Homo sapiens: one gene and its partners. The protein of the gene in region 3 purifies or fractionates together with the protein of the main gene of each other region. This does not show direct contact. Each region holds a gene or a part of one and is shown on either strand. Other genes may lie near its edges. The genes, in order: RCC1L, KLHL22, ETFRF1, NADK2, CCZ1B, SPATA20 and ECH1.

What was found.
Region 1: the proteins of ETFRF1 (region 3) and RCC1L purify together in Homo sapiens (affinity purification with mass spectrometry; one large-scale study listed by BioGRID and IntAct). This does not show direct contact.
Region 2: the proteins of ETFRF1 (region 3) and KLHL22 purify together in Homo sapiens (affinity purification with mass spectrometry; 2 studies listed by BioGRID and IntAct, with this or other methods). This does not show direct contact.
Region 4: the proteins of ETFRF1 (region 3) and NADK2 purify together in Homo sapiens (affinity purification with mass spectrometry; 2 studies listed by BioGRID and IntAct, with this or other methods). This does not show direct contact.
Region 5: the proteins of ETFRF1 (region 3) and CCZ1B purify together in Homo sapiens (co-immunoprecipitation; 2 studies listed by IntAct). This does not show direct contact.
Region 6: the proteins of ETFRF1 (region 3) and SPATA20 purify together in Homo sapiens (affinity purification with mass spectrometry; 2 studies listed by BioGRID and IntAct, with this or other methods). This does not show direct contact.
Region 7: the proteins of ETFRF1 (region 3) and ECH1 purify together in Homo sapiens (affinity purification with mass spectrometry, with the first as the bait; one large-scale study listed by BioGRID). This does not show direct contact.

Annotation. Positions count from the first base shown.
Region 1 is NC_000007.14:75,060,303-75,063,802, forward strand, and holds part of RCC1L (RCC1-like G exchanging factor-like protein), read right to left. Parts: intron 3,042-3,500; coding exon 2,990-3,041; intron 990-2,989; coding exon 905-989; intron 1-904. UniProt on the Homo sapiens protein: Guanine nucleotide exchange factor (GEF) for mitochondrial dynamin-related GTPase OPA1. Activates OPA1, by exchanging bound GDP for free GTP, and drives OPA1 and MFN1-dependent mitochondrial fusion. Plays an essential role in mitochondrial ribosome biogenesis.
Region 2 is NC_000022.11:20,489,296-20,492,795, reverse strand, and holds part of KLHL22 (kelch-like protein 22), read left to right. Parts: exon of another isoform or gene 1-2,965; coding exon of another isoform or gene 2,966-3,028; intron 3,029-3,500. UniProt on the Homo sapiens protein: Substrate-specific adapter of a BCR (BTB-CUL3-RBX1) E3 ubiquitin ligase complex required for chromosome alignment and localization of PLK1 at kinetochores.
Region 3 is NC_000012.12:25,201,737-25,205,236, reverse strand, and holds the end of ETFRF1 (electron transfer flavoprotein regulatory factor 1), read right to left. Parts: exon of another isoform or gene 1,405-3,500; intron 1,318-1,404; 5' UTR 1,281-1,317; coding exon 1,230-1,280; intron 1,147-1,229; coding exon 925-1,146; 3' UTR 94-924; downstream 1-93. UniProt on the Homo sapiens protein: Acts as a regulator of the electron transfer flavoprotein by promoting the removal of flavin from the ETF holoenzyme (composed of ETFA and ETFB).
Region 4 is NC_000005.10:36,228,426-36,231,925, forward strand, and holds part of NADK2 (NAD kinase 2, mitochondrial), read right to left. Parts: intron 1-3,500. UniProt on the Homo sapiens protein: Mitochondrial NAD(+) kinase that phosphorylates NAD(+) to yield NADP(+). Can use both ATP or inorganic polyphosphate as the phosphoryl donor.
Region 5 is NC_000007.14:6,819,776-6,823,275, reverse strand, and holds part of CCZ1B (vacuolar fusion protein CCZ1 homolog B), read left to right. Parts: intron 1-911; coding exon 912-995; intron 996-3,334; coding exon 3,335-3,500.
Region 6 is NC_000017.11:50,553,263-50,556,352, reverse strand, and holds the end of SPATA20 (spermatogenesis-associated protein 20 isoform 1 precursor), read right to left. Parts: intron 2,103-3,090; coding exon 1,903-2,102; intron 1,122-1,902; coding exon 1,041-1,121; intron 862-1,040; coding exon 691-861; 3' UTR 501-690; downstream 1-500. UniProt on the Homo sapiens protein: May play a role in fertility regulation.
Region 7 is NC_000019.10:38,821,795-38,825,294, forward strand, and holds part of ECH1 (delta(3,5)-Delta(2,4)-dienoyl-CoA isomerase, mitochondrial precursor), read right to left. Parts: intron 1,604-3,500; exon of another isoform or gene 1,046-1,603; intron 1-1,045. UniProt on the Homo sapiens protein: Isomerization of 3-trans,5-cis-dienoyl-CoA to 2-trans,4-trans-dienoyl-CoA.

The DNA of each region.
Region 1 (3,500 bases), on a different chromosome or scaffold from region 3:
CTGGATGAAGGCAAGAGTCTACAGTTCAGTGCTCTGCCTTGGGCTGCTGGCCAGGGGTTACCCCCATACCAAGTGCCAATAATGACATTTGCCTTTGGGCAGGTCCTGCCTGTCCTTTTCTCTGCAGTTTGTGTTTGTTTGTTTTTGAGACAGAGTCTTGCTCTGTTGTCCAGGCTGGAGTGCAATGGCGCGATCTTGGCTCACAGCAACCTCCGCCTCCCGGGTTCAAGCCATTCTCCTGCCTCAGCCTTCCTAGTAGCTGGGATTACAGCCGTGTGCCACCACACCCAGCTAATTTTTGTATTTTTAGTAGAGATGGGGTTTCGCCATGGTGGCCAAGCTGGTCTCAAACTCCTGACCTCAAGTGATCCGCCCACCTCGGCCTCCCAAAGTGCTGGGATTACAGGTGTGAGCCACTGCACCCAGCCTTCTCTCAGTTCATTTCTATGGGAGCCAGGGCTGAGGGGAATGGAAGGGATGCAAAAAAAAAGTATTACAGCAGGGCACAGTGGCTCCTGCCTGGAATCCCAGCCCACCAAGAGGCCACAGCAGGCAGACTGCTTAAGGTCAGGAGTTCAAGACCAGCCTGGGCAACATGGCGAAACCCTGTTGTTACAAAAAATTAGCTGGGCTTGGTGGCTCACACCTGTTGTCCCAGCTACTCTGGAGACTGTGGTGGGAGGATCACCTGAGCCTGGGAGTTTGAGACTGCAGTGAGATGTGATCGCGCCACTGCACTCCAGCTTGGGCGATGGAGCCAAGAATAGTGTTCCTCAGAAAGTGATAAGAGGTAAGAGCTGAATTAAGGAAGAAGGGTTCTAGCCCATAAATGCCCTACAGCTCACAGCTCCACATGACACGGGCTGAGAAGTTTCACGACCCCAGTGCATGAAAAGAACTCTACCTGTTTGCCCATCAGCACCCCATCCACAAGAATAGACTTCTCCTTTATCCGTCAGGAACAGACTATGATCCTGACCACAGGCGACCTAGCAGACAAACAGAGGTAAGGGGGATGAGAGGAAATACTTAGAACCCTGGTGTCCTCATCCAAAGAAGGACCAGCACCATCGCCTGCCGCTCCTGGGCACCTGGAGCATGGTCCAGGCAGACTGCTCCATGCTCATCTTACTCCTTCTCAATCTACCAGTCTCCCACTGCATTGAAACTGCTCTTGTTAAAGTAAAATGCAGATCTCCAAAGGGGCAAATCCAAGAGCTCTGCCATCCATCCCACGCCATCTCCAAAGAACCACCCCTTCTCCATAACCCTTCTCCTCCCAGCCCTCTCTTCTACTTTCACAGCTTCCAGCCTTGCTCACACACTCAGCCTCTACTTCAGACCCTTTGCTGTTGGGATCTCTCTCCAGGGTGTGTCTCCTGCCCTCCTCTCTCCTCACTCCTCATGCTACCCTGGGAGATGGGAGCCATTCTCAATGCTTAACTGTGGCCTCTGCACTGTGATCTCTGGTCTCAACAACTCTCCTCAGTTCCAAACTCATTTTTCTAACTGCCTAAAGAAAAGCACCATCTATTGAACAATTTTTACACCAGGCATTGTGTTAAGTCAATAACCAAAACCACCTAGTAAGAAACTGAATCTCAGCTGGGCACAGTGACTCACTCCTGTAATCCCAACACGTTGAGAGGCCAAGGCAGGTGGATCACTTGAGGTCAGGAGTTCAAGACCAGCCTGGCCAACATGGTGAAACCCCATCTCTACTAAAAATACAAAAATTAGCCAGGTATGGTGGCACATGCCTGTAATCCCAGCAACTCGGGAGTCTGAGGCACGAGAATCGCTTGAACCCAGGAGGCAGAGGTTGCTCTGAGCTGAGATTGTGCCACTGCACTAAAATAAAAAAAAAGAAAAAGAAACTATCTTGGAGATGTCTGGTAACTTGCACAAAGTCACTCAGTCTAATAGGTGAAGGAGGCCTGACATGGTGGCTTAACCCATAATCCCAACAGTTTGGGCAGCCAAGGCGGGAGGATGGCTTGAGGCCAAGAGTTTGAGACCAGCCTGGCCAGCACAGTGAGAATCTGTCTCTTTAAAATAATTAGCCGAGGATGGTGATGCACACCTGTAGACCCAGCTACACAGGGGGCTGAGGCAAGATCACTTGAGCCCAAGAGTTCAAGGCTGCAGTGAGCTATGATCGTGCCACTGCATTCCAGCCTAGGCAACAGAATGAGACCCTGCCTCTAAAAAATTTCCAAATAAAACCAAAAAGCCAGCCGTATCACAGTATGATTAGTGCTGTGGTGTTCTAAGCCAGCTGTATTTTGCTCTCCATTTTATTCTCATCCCCAGAATAGTGCCTGGCTCATGGTAGGTACCTATCATAAATATTTCAATGCACATATGCATGAATACAGCAAGTGCTGTGATACTTTTGCCTCAGCCTCCCCAGAGGCTGACGTTACAGGTGTGAGCCACCACATCCGGCCTCAGTTAGCTTTTTAACTTGTTCACTCACTAGAGTGTCATCCCCAAAAATCTGTTTTTTTTTGAGACAGAGTCTTGCTCTGTCATCCAGGCTGGAGTGCAGTGGTGCAATCTCTCAGCTCATTGCAGCCTCCACCTCCCAGGTTCAAGCAATTCCTGTGCCTCAGCCTCCTGAGTAGCTGGGATTACAGGCATGTGCCACCACACCCGGCTAATTTTTGTATTTTTAGTAAAGACGGGGTTTCACCATGTTGGCCAGGGTGGTCTGGAACTCCTGACTTCAGGTGATCCACCTGTCTCGGCCTCCCAAAGTGCTGGCATTACAGGTATAGCCACCACACCCGGCCCCAAAATCTTATTAAACTTTGTATCCCTAGAATCTAGCATAAATCCTGGCCTATAGTAAGTAGGCTACAATTTTTACTAAAATAATTTAATTCAGAAAATCCCCCTAACAAATTTGCCATCACCCTACCCAAATCTCAACTTTTCAAAAGCACCCCAGGAACACAACAAGCAGCTCTCGGCCCATCTCTCTTACCTGGACCACCTGGCCATCGAAGTCCTGCATCCTGTGGACTCTGTGACTTTCACTACAGCCAGGAACAAATTGGGAAGAAGCAAGGGATGCGGTCATGACAAGCACTGTGCAGCCCTTTCCCTGTCACCCCAACTGATGGCCCGTCCCCTCCGCTCACACAGTAACTGTTGGGGTAACTCTCAAGGTCAAATCTTAGGTCGAGTCAGGCCTGGTCATGAAAGTAAAGCCAAACAAAATCCTAGGTGATTTTAACACATGGCCAAAGTTGAGAGTGGTGTTAAGGCCCTCCAACAACATACAAGGAACTAGAGGGAAGTGTTTTTAAACACTAAAATGAAAAGAACTCACCGGGCGCGGTGGGTCACGCCTGTAATTCCAGCACTTTTAGAGGCCGAGGTGGGCGGATCACTTGAGGTCAGGAGTTTGAAACCAGCCTGGCCAACATGAAGAAACCCCATCTCTACTAAAAATACAAAAAATTAGCCAAGTGCGGTGGCGGACGCCTGTAATC
Region 2 (3,500 bases), on a different chromosome or scaffold from region 3:
ACATGGTGAAACCCCATTTCTGCTAAAAATGCAAGAAAATTAGCTGGGTGTGGTGGTGCACGCCTGTAATCCCAGCTACTGGGGAGGCTGAGGCAGGAGAATCACTTGAACCTGAGAGGCAGAGGTTGCAGTGAGCCAAGATCACACCACTGCACTCTAGCCTGGGTGACAGAGCGAGACTCCGTCTAAAAAAAAAAAAAAGGGCAGGTTTGAATGGTGGGGCATATTTGTCATGTTCTCTGTACAATGATAGAGGGAGAAGTAATCGAGCTAGACCTTGACCAATATGGGACTATGAGAGACAGAATGGCCTAGATGGGTGACTAAAGGTGTTCAGGGGATGACAGGTATCCCTTTTGGACTAAGGACTGCTGATGGGGCTGAGTAGGTAAGGCTTGAAGGAGAGCAGCCTGGGGAGGATGAGACAAGAGGTAGGGAAACTGGTAGGGGCATCACTGCTGTGGTCTGACCCAGAGTGGTGGCCCTGGAGGAGTGGAGGGTGGCTGTCTGAGATGGAGGAGAGGTGAAGGAATCAGAACTAGTAGGTTCATAGGGCACATGGGTTAGAAAGGAAAAATATTAAAACAGTGAGGTTTCCAAGATGGAAATGGTAGCTTTGATAGTAAAATTAGACAAGTTGGAGGGCTACTAGCTAGATTAGGCACTGAGCTGTAGGTGAAACTGGGAATGTGAACCACTGGGAAAGAAGGATGGGCTCGAGCAGGGTGTGTGGGATGAAAGAGAGAGGTCAGAAAAGGGAGAATTATCATAGAGCAGAGTTTCCAGGCAAGAGAATCCTAAGTGAGAGGTGGTCATGGGGTATACACCTTGGCTGTGGCCATCTCTGGGGCCTTGGTGAGAAAGATGAGCCAGCCCAGGAGGGGGAAAGGAATGGGTGGGTGGCTGGATAGAGGTCCCAGGTCCTGGAGGCAGACTCAGGGGCAGGCACAGATAACTGAGTGTGTTTGATGGGAAGCAGTAGAGCATCCAGGGGATGGGGTTGGGGGTGGCCCTGAGCCTCAGTAGTGAAGAGAGAGACCTCTTCTTTTTGGCAAGTTTTATATCAGCATATATTTTTCATTTTTTCTTTTAAAGATATATAATCATGTGCCACACAGTGATGTTTCCGTCAATGACAGACCAGACCACATGAAGGATGGTGGTCCCATATTTTTACTGTACCTTGTCTGTGTTTAGATACACAAATTCCATTGTGTTACAGTTGCCTATAGTATTCAGTACTGTGATATTGTGAAATATATATTTGGTCTTGTCTCATTTCTTGGCATACAACTTCTAAAATCTTTGGACTTTCCAGAGTGATGCCTTTTTGTATGCTGGCCAGCAGCCCCTAGGTAGCTTCAGGATGGGGGCTGGTGACAGGAAAGGCCAAGGCAGGCATAAGAGGGTTGGGACTTTCAGCCTCACCTCTCAACCTCCGGAGAGGGGAGACAGGCTGAAGATTAAGTTCATCACCAATGGCCAGTGATTTAATCAGTCATGCCTACATAATGAAGCTTCCATAAAAATTCTGAATGACTGGGTTTGGAAAACTTCTGGATAGTTGAACACATGGAGGCTCCTAAAGAGTGATGTTCCTGGAGAGGGCCTGGAAGCTCTGCACCACTTCCCACATGTCTGGCCCCATGCATCTCTTCATCTGTATCCTTTGCAATACCCTTTATAACAAACCAGTAGACATGAGTATTTTCCTGAGTTCTGTGAGTCGCTCTAACAAATTAGTTGAACCCAAGAAGGGGATCTTGGGAACCCAATTTATAGCCTATTGGTCAGAAGCACAGGTGAAACAACCTGGGAGACTCAGCCCTCAACCTGTGGGATCAGACACTGTCTCCAGGTAGTGTTAGAGTTGAATTAGAGCAGGGGTCCGCAACCCCCAGGCCTCAGACCTGTATCAGTCTGTGGCTGGTTAGGAACCAGGTGGCACAACAGGAGGTGAGTGGAGGGTGATCCAGCATTACCACCTGAGCTCCACCTCCTGTCAGATCAGAGGTGGCATCAGATTCTCATAGGAGCACAAACCCTGTTGTGAACCATGCATGTGAGGGGTCCAGATTGTGTGCTCCGAAAGAGAATCTAGCTAATGCCTGATAATCTGAGGTGGAACAGTTTGATCCCGAAACCATTCCCCGACCCCGTGGAAAAATTGTCTTCCAAGAAAGTGGTCCCTAGTGCCAAAAAGATTGGGGACTGCTGAATTAGAAGACACCCAGCTGGTATCTGTGGCAGAATTGATTGCTTGCTTGTTAATGGGGAAAAACCCTCACACATTTGGTCACAGAAGTCTCCTGTGTTTGTTGTTGTGGTATAAGAGGAGAGGAAAAACAGTGTGTTTTTTTCATTCAGAACTACAGTAACATGCTGTACAAGTATGTAGCTTAGGAGCAATTGGCTGTACCTTATGGCCTAGATGTGTAGTAGTCTCTACCACCTAGGTTTGTGTAGGTGTACCCTTTGATGTTCACACACTGAGGAAATTGCCTCCAGCGATATAAGTCTCAGAATGTATCCCCAACATTAAGTGATGCATGACTGGAGGTAATTGGAGAATAAACATATTTTGGGGAGAGGAAAGTAGGATGAAGTGAGGTGGAGAAGACAGATGTTCACATCTTGTAGCTGACTGTGCTGTGCCTACAGAGCCTGCAGCTTGGCCATGCCTCACAGTGTGGGACTGGCCACTCCCTGACCTGAACAGCTGGCTATCCACAGTCACTTTTGGTTGCTCCATGGCAAAAGTGCATTTGCAGTAGGTTCATTTTACTGATTAGGTTTTAGAGGCTCCAATTCAAATCAGTTTGCGGTTTTTGAACGTACTGACTCAATTATTAGAAGATAATCTTTAATTTAAAAGGCAATGCAGATGAATTTAAATGCATCAGGTTCAATCACAGTTACTGTGCTTGACTCTCAGAATTTCAGTAAAGGAAAGTAGGCCCTGGAAATGCCACCCCCTTGGCACCCACCTCCCAGACTCCTGGCTGTGTGTCTCCTGACCACTACTCAGGTCTTGCCATTTTTATGCATCCATTACTATGAGGAAGAACCCAATTTTGTTCATTCAATGGGAGGGAGGAAGAGCTCTTGAGAACCTGGTGTGTGCTTATGCTTCATGTTCATTGTTTTACCAATTTTAGAATACCCCAATGGGGTAGGTACTTTTATCTCTCTTTTTAAAATTGGGGAGCTCGAGGCTCAGTTTGGTCATGTTGTAAGTCCCTGTGGAGTTGGGCTCCAACCCAGGTCAGTCTGTTTCCCAAAACCCTTCTGTTTGACTTTGCCGCTGAAGAAGATACAATGAGATGAAGAGTCTTGGGCATGATGGCACACAGGTCATCAGGAAGAAGGCCATCAGGAAGTTGGACTAGAGGTGGGAGGGGAGAAGGAATTAGGGGATTTGGAAATAGAGGGAAAACAGGTGAGCCTGAGGGAGGCACAGGAGCAAGGGGAGCAACAGAGCTGGCCAGTCTGTGTGTGGT
Region 3 (3,500 bases):
GTATTTATTCATGAAATTTGAACTGTTTGCCCCGAAATGGATATGGAATACTTTATAAGCCATAGACACTATAGTATACCAGTGAATCTTTTATGCAGCTTGTTAGAAGTATCCTTTATTTCTAAAAGGTGCTGTGGATATTATGTAAAGGCGTGTTTGCTTAAACTTAAAACCATATTTAGAAGTAGATGCAAAACAAATCTGCCTTTATGACAAAAAAATAGGATAACATTATTTATTTATTTCCTTTTATCAAAGAAGGTAATTGATACACAACAGGTGACTTGGTTTTAGGCCCAAAGGTAGCAGCAGCAACATTAATAATGGAAATAATTGAATAGTTAGTTATGTATGTTAATGCCAGTCACCAGCAGGCTATTTCAAGGTCAGAAGTAATGACTCCATACATATTATTTATTTCTATAACTACATTTAAATCATTACCAGGAACTGTTTGTTTTGTAGTGAACCTTGAGTATGTGCTGTTAATATACCAAATTGGGTGAAAAAATAAGGGATTCCTTTCAAAAGTTAAGAGAAGTAAGTGTGTAAGAAATTATTTTGCTTATTAAATGTTCGGTAAATGGCATTCTCTTGTCAGTAAAATGGAGAAATAAGCTAAAAATAATTGGCTAAGTCCTATTAAGTTAGAGGATTAAGTGTATTATATTTTCATTCAAAATTGGGTGCTCATTAATTTATGATCGGTAGTATAGCTAAATTGCTATGTTTGTATCAAAATTGAGCATAAAGTTGCTGATACTTTCTCCGTATGAACAGAAGTTGAAACCTATTTAGTTCAGTAGGGCAGCTCAGGGATTTTTTACACAACATGTATATCTTCCCATTTTAAGTTAGAATTATTTTACAACATCTGGTATACATAAACAGCTGGCACTGATAGCTAAATTAAAGTAGTAATGATCAATTAGTTTTGTTGGTATCTGAATAATAGCGTTGTTTCATAGCTCTGTATTTCCTAAGGAAGTACAAAGCTTCTAGCTCTTTCATTACAAATTCGCCCTGTGCAATAAGTTCTTTGATCTTCTCTGGATTCTTCACATCTTTGTTTTTAAGGAAAATGTTCTTCAAACGCTTTTTAAAATAGTCTGCTCCTTTTGGATAGTCTCGTCCAAGATACAGCAGCTTCAAAAAGAAAGATTATATATTTCTAAACAATCCATGTCATATAATAACATTTTTATAAAATTGGCAACATAATTACTTACATTTTTATAAAGTTTTAGTACTTCTCCTCTTAAAGAATTGGCCATTTTCATTTATCATGTAAATTATCCACTTTTATGCATAACATACCTAAAGAAAGGAAAATTTTTTTGCAATTAGCTGCATTGTAGTCTTAAAAAAATAAAAAAAGGTTATACACATTGAGAAAATGGTAACCTTTTTTACATTCAATAAATATTTCTTGATAACTTTTTCGTTCCACGTACTGGGATATAGTTATAAACACTTCCGATAAAATTACCTGCTGTCATAATTGACGTTTTCCTATGGGAGACATAAGCAAAGACAATTGTGATTGTGAGAAGTCACATGAAGGAAATGAGAAAGTGGATTGTCATCACAGATAGGTACGTGTACCTCCTTTTATGCCACAGTGGAATGAGTTAAACTAGATTTAAATTCCAGTTGCATAATGTACAGATTAATTAACCTTGCTGAGCCTGAGTTTTCCTTATCAACAAACAAGAGATTATCTTTACCCTGCTCTCAAGGCAAGGCCAGAGCCACTTGAAGGACATTGAGCAGAAGCCTGATCAAATGCTGATGGGTGCTTATCCAAAGGGAGGCTGAAAACTAGCAGAAACTGGGTGAGTTAAGCAGGTTGGAATAGTAGATGGGCAGTAAGATTGGTGGTGAAGAGGCCAAATGAACAACCTGTAAGAGGGTGTCCCTGAGGAACAGGCAAAATCATGCTTCTTTATGTGTAATGTGTTAACTCTACTTTGTAGAGGAGGCTCCAAACTTAAAGGCATCATGACAGTCTAAACCTAGAAAATAATTCCCACTACCTGTTAGAGTTGAATAGTAAGCTCTTAACATTGCATCCTATCAGGTGGATGCAACTGCAATTTGTTCCATTGTGATTGATAACTTTGATTACCCAATTAATGTATTTGCTAAGATTGTCCATTGTAAAATTATTTCTCCAAGGAACCTAGTCCTTTTAATGGAGAATAGCATTTAGAAACTATAATCTGGATGGAATGCTTTAGAAACCAAGGTCTGGGTGCTAAAAATGCTAATCACCATGGGACTGTCACTGTTCCCAGGTCCTCTAAGTGACAAAGCTGCAAGTGTATATACATACGGATTTAGGTGTTGTATGTGTGTATGACTTTTATATTAATCTCCATATAATCTGCTACCTAACATTCAATTCCAATACTACAGGGTTTATTTTCATTTCCCCTCTTTACATGGGTTTAATACTCTTGCTGAACAGTGAGAAGTCTGGTTCCCACTTGTCCTTAATAAATTTACTTTTTATAATCATCACCCCTTCTCTCACTATGTAATCAAAATCCTCTTGCTGTCACCATTCGGCGCACACACTCTACTCTCTGAGCTCTGCCACCTAATGCCAGAGTGCCACTGCCACCATCCCACATGCATGGTCTTCTCTTCCCCCTTTCCCCCAACCTACCCTTCTTGGGCTCAAGCAACTTACACTGCACCATTTCCTCCCTCCTGGGTAAGGCTCACCTTTTGTTCCCATTCCAAAAACCTGTGCCACCATTTCCTTCACCCTAATAGGATGCCCTCCTCATCCCCTGCTAGGCTGCTGCTGTGCACAAGTCCCTACCCCCAGAGGCCCTCCTCACTGCATTTGGGCTCCAGTATCCCCTGCTGGGCTACTACCTTGCCAGCCTTTCTCTCGCCCCCACCTTCCCCAGATGCCTGCCTTGCTCAGCCCCACGTAATGACTTTTGGACTGAATTACTCTGATAGGCAAGCAGGAAGCAACTTTTTTTTTTTTGAGATGGATTCTTGCTCTGTCCCCAAGCTGGAGTGCAGTGGTGCCATCTCAGCTCACTGCAACCTCCACCTCCCTGGTTCAAGCAATTCCCCTGCCTCAGTCTCCCCAGTAAGCTGGGACTACGTGTGCGCGCCACCACGCCTGGCTAATTTTTTTTTTTTTTTTTTTTGTATTTCAGTAGAGACGGGGTTTCACCATGTTGGCCGGGATGGTCTTGATCTCCTCACCTTGTGATCCACCCACCTTGGCCTCCCAAAGTGCTGGGATTACAGGCGTGAGCCACCGTGCCCGGCCGCAACTTATATTTTTAAAATAGGCTTTTAGATCAGTTTTAAGGGTTATTTTATAGTTAACTAGCAGAAAATGTGGATTAAAATTACAGTACCATACTCAATTAAAAATCATGCGCTACATAATTTAAGTTCTCCTGTTAACTTCTGTTTGGGTTGAACCCCGAAGTACAATAGTGTAGATTCTCATTGTGACCTCACCTGCC
Region 4 (3,500 bases), on a different chromosome or scaffold from region 3:
TTTTCTTTTCTTTTTTTTGTTCTTGAGATGCTGTCTTGCTATGTTGCTCAGGCTGGTCTTGGACTCCTAGGCTCTAATGATTCTCCTGCCTCCGTTTACCAAGTAGATGAGATTATAGGCACGTGTCACTGTGCCCAGCTTATACCTTTCCTCTTTATGTAACAAAATCAGTCTTTCAAATACCTGTCTAGACATGATTTTTTTTTTTTTTGAGACGGGGTCTGGCTCTGTTGCCCAGGCCGGGGTGTGGTAGTGTGATCTCAGCTTACTGCAACCTCTGCCTCCCGGACTCAAGCCGCCCTCCCACCTCAGCCTCCCAGGCAGCTGGGACTACAAGTGCACACCACCACAACCAGCTAATTTATTTTATTTTTTTTTTTGGTAGAAATGGGGTTTTACCATGTTGCCCAGGCTAGTCTCGAACTCCTGGGCTTAAGCAATCCACACACCTTGCTTCCAAAAAAGCTGGGGTTACAGGTGTGAGCCATCACACCCAGCCTAATATACAATCTCAAATATTTTGTTTTAAATCATTACTTACTGAACTATAAAGTAAAACTAATTTTTAGACAGCATTTTAATACATATTTTACTTTTTAAAGGTTATAAAGAAAACACTAACAATATGGAAAATGCATATTTAAAGAAAATTGAAATCAAATATAATCTTATGGCTCAAAATCATTAGTGTTAATATTTTGATACCTACCTTCCCCATCTTTTGCCTACGAATACTGGGTTAAGAGTTTTTAAATAGTTTTGTCCTTGCTTTGTAATTTTCGTTATGTTCTCACAAAAGAGAAGCTGAGGAAGCATTTGGCTATTGTGAAAATTAATTAATAGATGTTAACTTACCAAGATATACTATAATAGATTAGACAGCCTGTGCCAAAATTTAATGCCTAGCCAAAAGCCTCATTAAACTTAGACTAAGCAACCAATGTCAATAATTTTTTAAAGGAAAGCACTGACTATGATAATAACTAGAAAAATCCTTCATTTAATTTAATCAACAAATCAACATGAGTCAGTAAGGTTTGAAAAACTATTTTAGAGTAGAATTTCTTAATATGGACCAACAGAGCATGAATATTCAGATTACCACTATCATTACCCAGCTACAGATTGACTAAAACGGCACTAACCACCTCTCAGTGAGTATGGACCACTACCCTCTCCCTTGGCAATCTCTAGTTTCACGGCTTTAAAAGAGATCTATATGCTGATGCTGATGATTCCCAACTGCTATCTCCCAACCCGGCCTATCTTTAGAGCCTCAAATACATTTATTCAACTGCTTATTTGACATCTTTCTTTGGCTATCTAACAGGCACCTCAAATTTAGAGGGCTAGATATTGAACATGCTAGATACTGAATACTTGAAATGCTATTATTATTCATTCAGTATCTAGCATGTTCAATATCTAGCCCTTGATTTTCTGGCCCAAGAATTCCCCACCTATGGCTTAAGCCAACAGTCTAGAGTCACAGCCGATGCCTCCTTTTTTGCTTATTTCCACATCCAATTACTAAATCTTATATTTGATCCAAGCACTTTTCTCTTCTTCCCCTCTACCACTCATGATCTCACACGTGAACCACTGCACAAGCCTCTGACAGGGGTTCCCTACTTCCACTCTTGGCACCCTATAGATTATTCCGAACACAGAAACCAGAGAGACCACAGCATGTCTCTTCCTCAGCTTAATGCCCTTCTACAAATGGCACTTTCTTCCTACCAACTCTCAGGCTTATGCCACCTGACTTCTGCTCCTTTCTCCTACCTCATTTTTCCTCCCCATTCCCAACACTCTAATCTCTTTGGTCTATTTTCACCAAGCTCTTCCTTTGTACTTGCTGGAATGCTTTCCATCCCTCCACCTAACTCTGACTCTTTTTAACCCTGGGGTGCCAGGACTGCTGAAACAGCTGCTGCTAGTGCTGCCCTTGCAGCTGCAACAGCCACCACTGCCAATTACTCCATCCCAACACCTGTTAATTCCCTTTTTTGCATTTACCACACCTAAAATTTCCTGGTATTTTTAAAAAATCCCTTTGAATCTCCTTACTAGAATATAAGTGCTGGGAGAACAGTGATCTTACTTATCTTGTTTGCCATTGTTCCTCAGGGCCTAAGTACTAGCTAAGTATTTGTTGAATGAACTCATGCATACATTTTCCAGAAAAGCAAGAATAGTGCAGAAGCAGATGCTACAGAAGATAACCCAGAAAGTGACAACAGTGTGCAAACCAACCCTTAGAACTGAGGAGAGTTAGATTAGTTACTATAGTATATTATTTTGTTATAATTATCTCTTACAATTCCACTTTAGGCGTGAACACTTTACACAGCTAGAAGTTAAGCTCTAAAAAAAATTCATCTAAATATTTGACTGCCTACTACTGTGTTCATTTAACTACTAGTTGAACTTAATCAAATGTATTAAACAAGGCACTGCAAACTGCCAAAGACAATGATAACTAATTCAAATGCACAATAAGCCTATTACAACAGTTATATCTAATTTACCACTTCTACTTTAAATAAAACTTCAAGGGTAGCTGGCCCTCATACTTCAATTCCCTATCCAGGATTTTTACCTTATGTTCCAAATTTTGGTTTGGACAATATGGAACATGTACCCAGGAAAAAAGCACATAAACCTTACTGTGTAAGCCCTGTAAATGCTAGTCTGGTAGTTCAGAAACTTTTATGCTTACTTCCTGGCTCTCGGCAAGCCCCAGGAAAATAAGATACATGGCGTTGACTGTTAGGGAACTTTGGCTTGAGATGGCGAAAGGGTCTGAATTTGTGGGAGAAAAAGTTTTGGAGAACTAACAAAAAACTTCAAGTTTTCTATGATTGCTAACAATAATAAAATTCCTAAAATTCCAAATCTAAATACAAAGTTCAGGCAGCATCAGAATACTTAACATTGAAGCAGAAATGTCAGTTCATAAATTCTTATTCCCACTCAAATTTCTTCTTGTGAACTAACTTTCTAATAAGTCATCCTCAACATTCATTTAGAGAATGTAAGTTCTTATTTTCTTTAAAGGCCTCGCTGGTTGGGCTATTAAGCTTTATTAACATGAACTGGCTAAATGAGACAGATAAAAAATAAGAAAATCACTTAATAAACAGCATCAATTAGAAAGGCTTAAATCACTATTCAACTGGCTTTAATTCTTCCCTTACATTCAATCGCCACAGCCAGTGAGTACTGAAGTCCAATAATTATATTTGTTTAAAAGGCATATGCAAAAGCTGGTAAGAATTTCTTGCTAAACCTTTGAAAATAACATGACTTCAAATATCTTAAAACACTCCTTTAATCAGACAAAAATAAGAACACATGATTTCTTAGACAATGTCTTACCATTAAAAGGTTAGAGAAATTACTGAAATTTAGAACACATTCCCAATTCTCTGCAATGTTACACAACATTATTAGTAACAGTCTTTAATATTTTCCCCAAAAACCTGTTAATTCTTCTC
Region 5 (3,500 bases), on a different chromosome or scaffold from region 3:
ACTTACCCCTATCTCTAGGCTCCAGGGTTGTTTAAAGAGAAGTCTATAAATGACTGCAAAGTGACTCTGTATTTGTCTTAGAGAAGAAAATAATGAGGCCTTTGAAACAGGTAGTGAGGTTTATGCCTACATTTATTCAGTAAGTATTGAACTCCCTTCTCTTTTCTCAGCCTTATAGTAGGAATGTGTCCCCATTGATGAAAAAGTGTATCTATGTGCTCAAGGAACATACAGAATGCAGATAATTTTATGATTTAAAAGTTTCAGTGAGGCAGGGCACAGTGGATCACACCTGTAATTTCAGCATTCTGGGAGGCTAAGGTGGGAGGATTGCTTGAGCCCAGGAATTCAGGACCAGTCTGGGCAATATAGCAAGACCCCATCTCTACAAAAAAATTTTATAAAAGTTAGCCAGGTATCATGGTGCATGCCTGTAGTCCCAGCTACCTGGGAGGCTGAGGTGGGAGGATCGCTCGCACCTTGGAGGTCGAGGCTGCAGTGAACTGTGATTGCACCACTGCACTCTACCCTGGGCAACAGCGAGATTCCATCTCAAAAAAAAAAAAAAAGGATAAAAAGTTTGGTGATTCCATTTATTAACAGAACACTGAAAAATAAAAAAACAGAAATGTGGGTGATATTATGTATGTAAATTGAAACTTAAGGGTAAGTTGAAATTTTTGAAAGATGCCTAGAGCAATTAGGTGGTTTCATAAAACAGCATCACTTAACAGTATTTTTTGTAACTTACATTTTTAACTCAAGTTTTCTCACGTAAATATTCTCTGTTGGAAAGAACTGGGAGATTTAATGAGCTGAATTAATAATCTAAAGGAAAAAAAGAACTTGTTATACTGAAAAAGTGAGCATAGGAAACTGATTTTTTTTTCTGCAATCTTTTACCTCACTAGCTTTTTAATGGTACATTTCTGAAAGCCATGGAAGACGGAGGCGTCAAGCTTCTGAAAGAAAGATTAGAGAAATTCTTCCATCGGGTAAGTATTTTGAATTTCATTTATAACTTTACTAAGCATTCATCAGGTTTTTAGAGAAATATAGACAGACAAGTTTGTTTCTTATCTACAAAAAACCCAGAACTTGAAAGTGGCAAAGAGCCTGAGACAGACCGTCGCAAAACTGGAGCAGCGAGGAAACGCATGAGGCGTGTGCTCTGGAACCTTCCCTCCAGCTGTGGTGTAAGGCAGAGCTTCCTGCGTTTGCCCGGGGCTCTTAAAGGGTCCTGGAGACATCGTTTGGCCTCCCTGTGTTTTACCTGCATCTGTCCTTCTGGGCTTACTCAGCAGCCATCTTTTGTGTGATAGATTAGTTGATAAGGAAAACTTAATTATTGGAGTTGCACAATCTCAGGGATTGGTTCTGTTCACTAAACGGGCGTAAACTGTCTTGATGTAGGTAAGAGTTATTGGCCTTGACAGACTTTGTCAGATTAGCGATTGGGGAGATTTGTTCCAAGTGCTGTCCTCTTTCGTTGTAATTGAATTTTGCATGTTTCACCCTACCTTGTCAAGCTCAGTTTATCTTTTTTTTTAAAAGGAAACAAAGAGACAGGGTCTTGTCTTGGCTGTTTTGCCCAGGCTGGTTTCAAGCGATCTTCCCTCCTTGGCCTCCCAAAGTGCTGGGGTTAAAGGCGTGAGCCAACTCGCCTAGCCTAGTTTATCTTGAAGCAACAATTCTCAATTTATTTTCTTCTGAAAATACCTTCTGTATCTATTTTTGAATTCGACTTTCTAAAACAGCTTTCATAGCTATTTTTGAATTTTTTTGTTTCTCTGAATTACTTTTCTTTGTTGTTTTGTCATTTTAATGACCACAATTATCCACTCGCATATTATCTCCTGGTTTCTGTTCTTGTCCTCATTTCTCTCTTACCCGTCAACATATGGATAGAACTGTTGTCCTGAGTACATATCATTTAGACATGATTTTAGTATAAGATGGCACTCTTGGCTGGGTGTGGTGGCTTACGCCTGTAATCCCAGCACTTTGGGAGGCCGAGGCGGGCAGATCTTGAGGTCATGAGTTCGAGACCAGCCTGGCCAACATGGTGAAACCTCGTCTCTACTAAAAAATACCAAAAAACTAGCTGGGCGTGGTGGCGCACGCCTGTAATCCCAGCTATTCTGGAGGCTGAGGCAGGAGAATCGCTTGAACCCCAGAGGCAGAGGTTGCAGTGAGCCGAGATCGCACCGCTGCACTCCAGCCTGGGTGACAGACCAAGACTCCATCTCGGGGGGGAAATAAAGATGGCACTCTCTGTAGTATTAATGGATAGATCCCTCATTAGGTTAGTCTAATTTGAAGAGCATTAAGGCAGGGAGTTAATTTTTTTTTTTTTTTTTGAGACAGAGTCTTACTCTTGTCACCCAGGCTAGAGTGCAATGGTGTGATCTTGGCTCACTGCAACCTTAGTCTCCCAAGTTCAAGTGATTCTCCTGTCTCAGCCTCCTGAATAGTTGGGATTACAGGCTACCACGCCCGGCTAATGTTGTAATTTTATTAGAGACGGGGTTTTGCCATGTTGGCGAGGCTGGTCTCAAACTCCTGACCTCAAGTGATGTGCCCGCCTTGGCCTCCCAAAGGGCTGGGATTACAGGCGCGAGCCGCTGTGCCTGGCCAGGAATTAAATACTTGAAAGTGCTAGCTGGGCACAGTGGCTCATGCCTGTATTCCCAGCGCTTTGGGATGCCTAGACACGAGAATCACGGAGGCCAGAAGTTCAAGACCAGCCTAGGCAACATAGCAAGACTCTGTCTATACCAAAAAAAAAAAAAAATTTTTGGCCAGGCGTGGTGGCTCACACCTCTAATCCCAGCACTTTGGGAGGCTGAGGCAGGCAGATCACGAGTCAGGAGATTGAGACCATCCTGGCTAACATGGTGAAACCCTGTCTCTACTAAAAATGGAAAAAAATAGCTGGGCATGGTGGCAGGCGCCTGTAGTCCCAGCTGCTCAGGAGGCTGAGGCAGGAGAATGGTGTGAACCTGGAAGGCGGAGCTTGCAGTAAGCTGAGATCGCACCACTGCACTCCAGCCTGGATGACAGAGCAAGACTCTGTCACAAAAAAATAAATTTAAAGCAGTAAAACACAATACTGAATAAACATTAAGTAGATAGTTTGAACTTTGTATCTTGGAATTGGTACTGAGTTGACACTCAGTCACCCATGTCTTCACCACGGCCTCATTGTTGTGCTGTTTGCTAGTATGTAATTGTACCATAAATGTGAGTCTGACATAAGATTATTTTCAGTTATCAAGGAGCATTATATTCAGTGTACTATTAGTAAATTTTATGCCTTATTTTTTTTCCACAGTATTTGCAAACGCTACATTTGCAGTCATGTGACCTACTTGACATTTTTGGTGGAATCAGCTTCTTCCCGTTGGATAAAATGACTTATTTGAAAATCCAGTCCTTTATTAATAGAATGGAGGAAAGCCTGAATATAGTCAAATACACTGCTTTTCTCTATAACGATC
Region 6 (3,090 bases), on a different chromosome or scaffold from region 3:
GGAGGCCCTGCTTCCATCCTTTCGAGGCTGGGGCTAGATGGATACCCCAAAAGAAATGTCTTAGTCGTGACAATAGCAGCTCCCACAATGCACCAGGGCATATGCAAAGTCACCATTCTGTGAAATATAAAAGCTCATATAAAGCATCTCTGCCCCCTTTCCAGCTCAACACAAGGAGACAATGGGGAGGGGAGGGCAGGTTCCCTTCTTAACCTCTTTCTGAGGGCAAGGATTGTGCTTTCTCCCTCCTGGGCCAGTCCACACCCCCATGCCCACCCCTGGGCATCTTTACTTGGTTTTAGTCCCCTGACCTCAGTTCAGGGGACTAAATTCATTCAGGCTACAATGACCATGGAAGGGAAAGGGGCAGTCTGCTGACCCCTGGAAGATGAAGGAGAAATGGGAGAAGGCAGAGGGGTCAGGTGGGGGCTGCCAGAGGAAGTGGCCCTGAGCTGCTGGTTCCCAGTCCCTCCCTCATAAGCAAAGCTGAGGCCCTCAGGTTACCACGGGACACTGTTAAGTTTATTCTAGGGTGAGTGGGTGCCCAAGGGGGGCAGTGAGTATGGCCGAGGTCACCTGGTGGCAGGGTGCTCAGGGATGGCCACAGGTTCTATAGGGCCCTGCAGGGCCTGAGTCTCTAGTCAGTTGGGATGCTTCACCTTCTGCCCCACCCCAAGGGGGTTGGGGCAGTCATGGATGTAGTAGTTTTCGTAATTCGCAGGGATCAGTGATGGGCACTGAGCAGGCTTGATTCTCACACACATATGCAGTGGCCTGGTCTTCCAACCGTCGGAGGGTACTCAGGAAAGGCAGCTGGCGGGACAGGAAGCTCGAGGGGTCCCCATCAGCCAGAATCAGCACCTAGGGCAGCAGCAGAGCAGGGAGAGTCACCTGCCGGGGTGGGGTCACCTGCCCATTAGAAAGGCCCACTGGGAAGTTCCCTCTTCCCAACATTCTGAGGGGAAGGAGATGTTGAGGAGCTGAGGATGGGAGGGGGCAGCTCTGGGGAGGTGGCAGATTGGGCTCACAGGGATGGGTACCTTGTTAGGAATGTAGACAGAGTGGACGCACTGCACCAGGGCCTTGGTGTCCTTGGCCTGACGGTCTCCACAGATCACGATCTGACCGGAATAGAAAGGTCACTCCGGTGTGTCAGGGGAGGGAGGGCTGAGCCCTAGACCACCAGGGCTTCCCCATCCTCCTTCCGCCCCACCGTATATCTCTAAGAAGGAACAGGGACTCATCTCAGCTGCCAGGATGAGTTAATGCTTGGCAAGTGGGAACACACACACACACTCACACATGAGAATACCGAAGTGGAAATGTCATACATATACACAATGGTACAGATACAAACATGGGGAGACACACACCCAGAAGACCCAGAGCACACAGAGACCCATTCAGACAGACACAGAGTAGTCACACACACACACACACACACACACACACACACACACACACACAGTAGATGCCCACACAGAGGCAGATACCACACACACAAACACCAGACACACACGCATGCAGGCAGACACAGAGGCAAACCTGCAGATGGGGCATCCACATGCAGACAGACAAACACTCACACCAGCATCCCCCTCAAAGGTAGGTGCACAGACACACACCTCCAGGGTCACACACACCCGGAAGTACACACACACCAGTAACACAGTATGGACAGAAGCAATTACACTGACACCAAGACGTACAGAGAAACACTTCATCAGCCACCACGGACTCATATTAACTTCTGCCTCCCTGTCTGACAGGCCACGTGCCTGCACACACACAGACCTGAGCTCTGGGGACAGCCCAGGAACCCCACCCCCTGTTCCCATCTGCCATCGCAGCCCCAACTTCCCTCCTACCCGAGGTCCCAGCCCAGATGCCCTCACCCCCCACCTGCTTGAGGGTCTGCTGCTGGGCTGAGAGGGCGCGGACCATCTCGGGCAACGCCACCGGGACACGACGCATGCGCTCGGAAAAGGCGGTCAATAGGCACACACACTTGTCCATCCAGTCCTTGTGGCCCGTGAAGCCATGCAGCCGGAGCAGGTTGTGGGCTGACACGGAATTGGCGCTGGGCTCTGCTCCATCCTGGTCTACAGCACATAGGGAGGCAGGGGGTGGGGGTAAGGGCAGGTCACTGAGTCCCAGGACCCTGCCCAGGACTGTATCCAGGGCCACTTGGGGGACGGGACAGAGAAAAGGCCCTGCCCATCCTGCCCCTTCCCCGCTCTGGGTGTGGATGCCACTCCAGCAGTTATCAGTACTTTGCTGTCTTTTTTATGGCACCCTCCACTCTACCTGTCCTAGCCTCAACTGTTGGTCTCCAGGCTCCCTCCTCGCTGCTGATGCCTCTGTCCAGCCACTCAGCTGCTCAAGCTAGAGCGGCATCATCCTGTCCCCTTCCTCTCCCTCTCCCTCCGCTTCTAATCCATCTGTGAGTCTTGCCAGGGCTGTGGCCAGAAGAGATCCAAATCTCACCATGTCTCCCCATCTCATACTTCCACATCCTCTGAGCCTTCACCAATGCCTGCCTGGACTGAACACGAGTAATGGCCTCCTAACTGGTCGCCTGTTTCCCCCACCCCCACTTCTCTCCATCAGTGGTCAGAGTGACCTCCTTAAAACCATACCAGAGCAGATCACAATCCACTTAAAACCTCCTTGCCAGCCGGGCATGGTGGCTCACACCTGTAGTCCCAGCACCTGGGAAGCCGAGGCGGGAGGATCACCTGAGCCCAGGAGTTTGAGACCAGCCTTCTTTTCTTAGGAAAAAAAAAAAAAAAAGACGGCTTCCGTGCCCTGCCGGCCTCAGCATTCTCCTCGGTGCCCTCCTGGAACACGCGGGCCCTGCCTGTCCTCCAGGATACAGGCTGCCTGCACCAGGCCTGTCATGCACTGCTCCCTATGCCTGAACTCTCTCCACAGCTTCTCCATGGCCACATGGCCCCTCTTTCCCTCCAGGCCTTGGTTAAATGACACCTGTCACAGGTGTCCTCTAATCTCTCCCTAGGCTGAGTTGGTCCTCCTCTGTGGTTCTCTCCCAAGGCCCTTTCATTCACTCAGTTAACATTTATTAAGCAC
Region 7 (3,500 bases), on a different chromosome or scaffold from region 3:
CTGCACAGCCCGAGCCTCCCCGAGGAGCGCCACCCCCTGCTCGGCGGCGCCTGGTCCCATCAACTGCCCAAGGGCTGAGGAGTGCTCCGCCTGCGGCCCTGGTGCAGGATCCACTGGGTGAAGCCAGCTGAGCTCCTGAGTCTAGTGGGGATTTGGAGAACATTTATGTCTAGCTGAGGGACTGTAAATGCACCAATCAGCACTCTGTATCTAGCTAATCTGGTGGGGACTTGGAGAACGTTTATGTCTAGCTAAGGGATTGTAAATACACCAATCAGCACTCTGTTTCTAGCTCAAGGTTTGTAAATGCACCAATCAGCACCCTGTGTCTAGCTCAAGGTTTGTAAATGCACCAATCAATGCTCTGTGTCTAGCTCATCTGGTGGGGACTTGGAGAAACTTTATGTCTAGCTAAGGGATTGTAAACAACCAATCAGCACTCTGTGTCTAGCTCAAGGTTTGTAAATGCACCAATCAGCACCCTGTGTCTAGCTCAAGGTTTGTAAATGCACCAATCAGCACTCTGTATCTAGCTAATCTGGTGGGGACTTGGAGACTCTTTATGTCTAGCTAAGGGATTGTAAACAACCAATCAGCACTCTGTGTCTAGCTCAAGGTTTGTAAATGCACCAATCAGCACCCTATGTCTAGCTCAAGGTTTGTAAATGCACCAATCAGCACTCTGTATCTAGCTAATCTGGTGGGGACTTGGAGAATCTTTATGTCTAGCTAAGGGATTGTAAATACACCAATCAGCACTGTGTGTCTAGCTCAAGGTTTGTAAATACACCAATCAGCACCCTGTGTCTAGCTCAAGGTTTGTAAATGCACCAATCAGTGCTCTGTGTCTAGCTAATCTAGTGGGGACTTGGAGAAGTTTTGTGTCTAGCTCAGGGATTGTAAACGCACCAGTCAGCACCCTGTCAAAATGGACCAATCAGCTCTCTGTAAAACAGACCAATCAGCTCTCTGTAAAACGGACCAACCAGCAGGATGTGGGTGGGGACAGATAAGGGAATAAAAGCAGGCTGTCCGAGCCAGCAGTGGCAACCCACTCACGTCCCCTTCCATGCTATGGAAGCTCTGTTCTTTTGCTCTTTGCAATAAATCTTGCTGCTGCTCACTCTTTGGGTCCACACTGCCTTTATGAGCCATAACACTCACCGCGAAGGTCTGCAACTTCTCTCCAGAGGCCAGCAAGACCACGAACCCACTGGGAGGAATGAACAACTCCGGACGGGAGGAACGAACCACTCTGGACGCACCGCCTTAAGAGCTATAACACTCACTGCGAAGGTCTGCAGCTTCATTCCTGAAGCCAGCGAGACCACGAACCCACCAGAAGGAAGAAACTCTGAACACACCCAAACATCAGAAGGAACAAACTCCGAACACATCAGAAGGAACAAACTGCGGACATGCCGCCTTTAAGAACTGTAACACTCACCACGAGATTCTGCGGCTTCATTCTTGAAGTCAGTGAGACCAAGAACCCACCAATTCCGGATACATTTTGGTGACCCAGATGGGACTATTACCTATCGCCAAGCGGTGAGACCACTGCCTATCGCTGAGCGGTGAGACTATCACCTATCGCCAAGCAGTGAGTACCACTGGACCCCTTTCACTTGCTATTCTGTCCTATTTTTCCTTAGAATTTGGGGGCTAAATACCAGGCACCTGTCTGCCAGTTAAAAGTGACTAGCATGGCCGCTGGACTAAAGACATGGGTGTCAGGCTTTCTGGGAAAGGGCTCTCTAACAACTCCCGACTCTTTGGAGTTGGGAGCGTTGGTTTGCCTAGAACCAGCTTCTGCTTTTCCTGTACTTCTGGGCTGAGCCGAGGGTCGACAGAGAGGAAAGCCATGCAGCTCTAGGGTCCCGACAAGACAACAAGTTCGTTGACCCTGCAGCCATGAGCGGAACACTCAAAGGCATGTCGCCCAAGCGAGACTCGCCCATCTATCCTATCTATCCTGACTCTTGCCCCCGGGTCCTAATGCCTGCCAGACAAACTTCCTCTCACCTCTCTTCTCCGAGTTTAGTCCTGCTTCTAAAATTTGCTGTCTCTGGTGCTTTTCTAGTTTCTCCTATAAGAACGACTTCTAGAACTCTGTTACATTCTTTAGGCACCCAGGCTCACCAATCAGAAAGACATAATTTTTGCCCAAAGCCCTGTCATAGTGGCGACTACCTGGAATTTTACGATCCCTCCTCAGACTAACAGGCCTAACAAAGGTATTCCTGAAGCTAGGATATGGGGAGCCTCAGAAATTGTAGCTTTCCTATTCATATAAGTGAGGACAAAAGGTGTCACTCTTCCAACCCTGGAGATCCCTTCCCTCCCTCAGGGTATGGCCCTCCACTTCATTTTTGGGGCATAACATCTTTATAGGACAGGGGTAAAGTCCCAATACTAACAGGAGAATGCTTAGAACTCTAACAGGTTTTCAAGAATGCGTCGGTAAGGGCCACTAAATCCGACCTTCCTTGGTCCTCCATGTGGTCTGAGAGGAAAACTAGTGTTTCTGCTGCTGCGTTGATGAGCACAACTATTCCGATCAGCAGGGTACAGGGACTGTTGCAGTTTCTTGGGCAGGGGGAGAAACAAAACAAACCAAAACCGCGGGTGGTTTTGTCTTTCAGATGGGAAACATTCAGCCATCAACAGGCTCACCCTTGAAATGCATCCTAAGCCGTTGGGACCAATTTGACCCATAAACCCTGAAAAAGAGGAGGCTCATTTTTTTTCTGCACTATGGCCTGGCCCCAGTATTCTCTCTCTGATGGGGAAAAATGGCCACCTGAGGGAAGTACAAATTACAATACTATCCTGCAGCTTGACCTTTTCTGTAAGAGGGAAGGCAAATGGAGTGAAATACCTTATGTCCAAGCTTTCTTTTCATGGAGGGAGAATACACAACTATGCAAAGCTTACAATTTACATCCCACAGGAGGACCTCTCAGCTTACCACCATATCCTAGCCTCCCTATAGCTCCCATTCCTATTAATGATAATCTTCCTCTAATCTCCCCTGCCCAGAAGGAAATATGCAAAGAAATCTCCAAAGGACCACAAAACCCTCCTGGCTATTGGTTATGTCCCCTTCAAGCTGTAGGGGGAGGGGAATTTGGTCCCACCCGGGTACATGTCCCCTTCTCCATCTCTGATTTAAAGCAGATCAAGGCAGACCTGGGGAAGTTTTCAGATGATCCTGATAGGTACATACATGCCCTACAGGGTCTAGGGCAAACTTTCGACCTCGCTTGGAGAGATGTCATGCTACTGTTAGATCAAACCCTGGCCTTTAATGAAAAGAATGCAGCTTTAGCTGCAGCCTGAGAGTTTGGAGATACCTGGAATCTTAATCAAGTAAATGATAGAATGACACCTGAAGAAAGGGACAAATTCCCTATCGGTCAGCAAGCCATCCCCAGTATGGATCCCCACTGGGACCTTGACTTAGATCATGGGGACTGGAGTCGTAAACATCTGTTGAC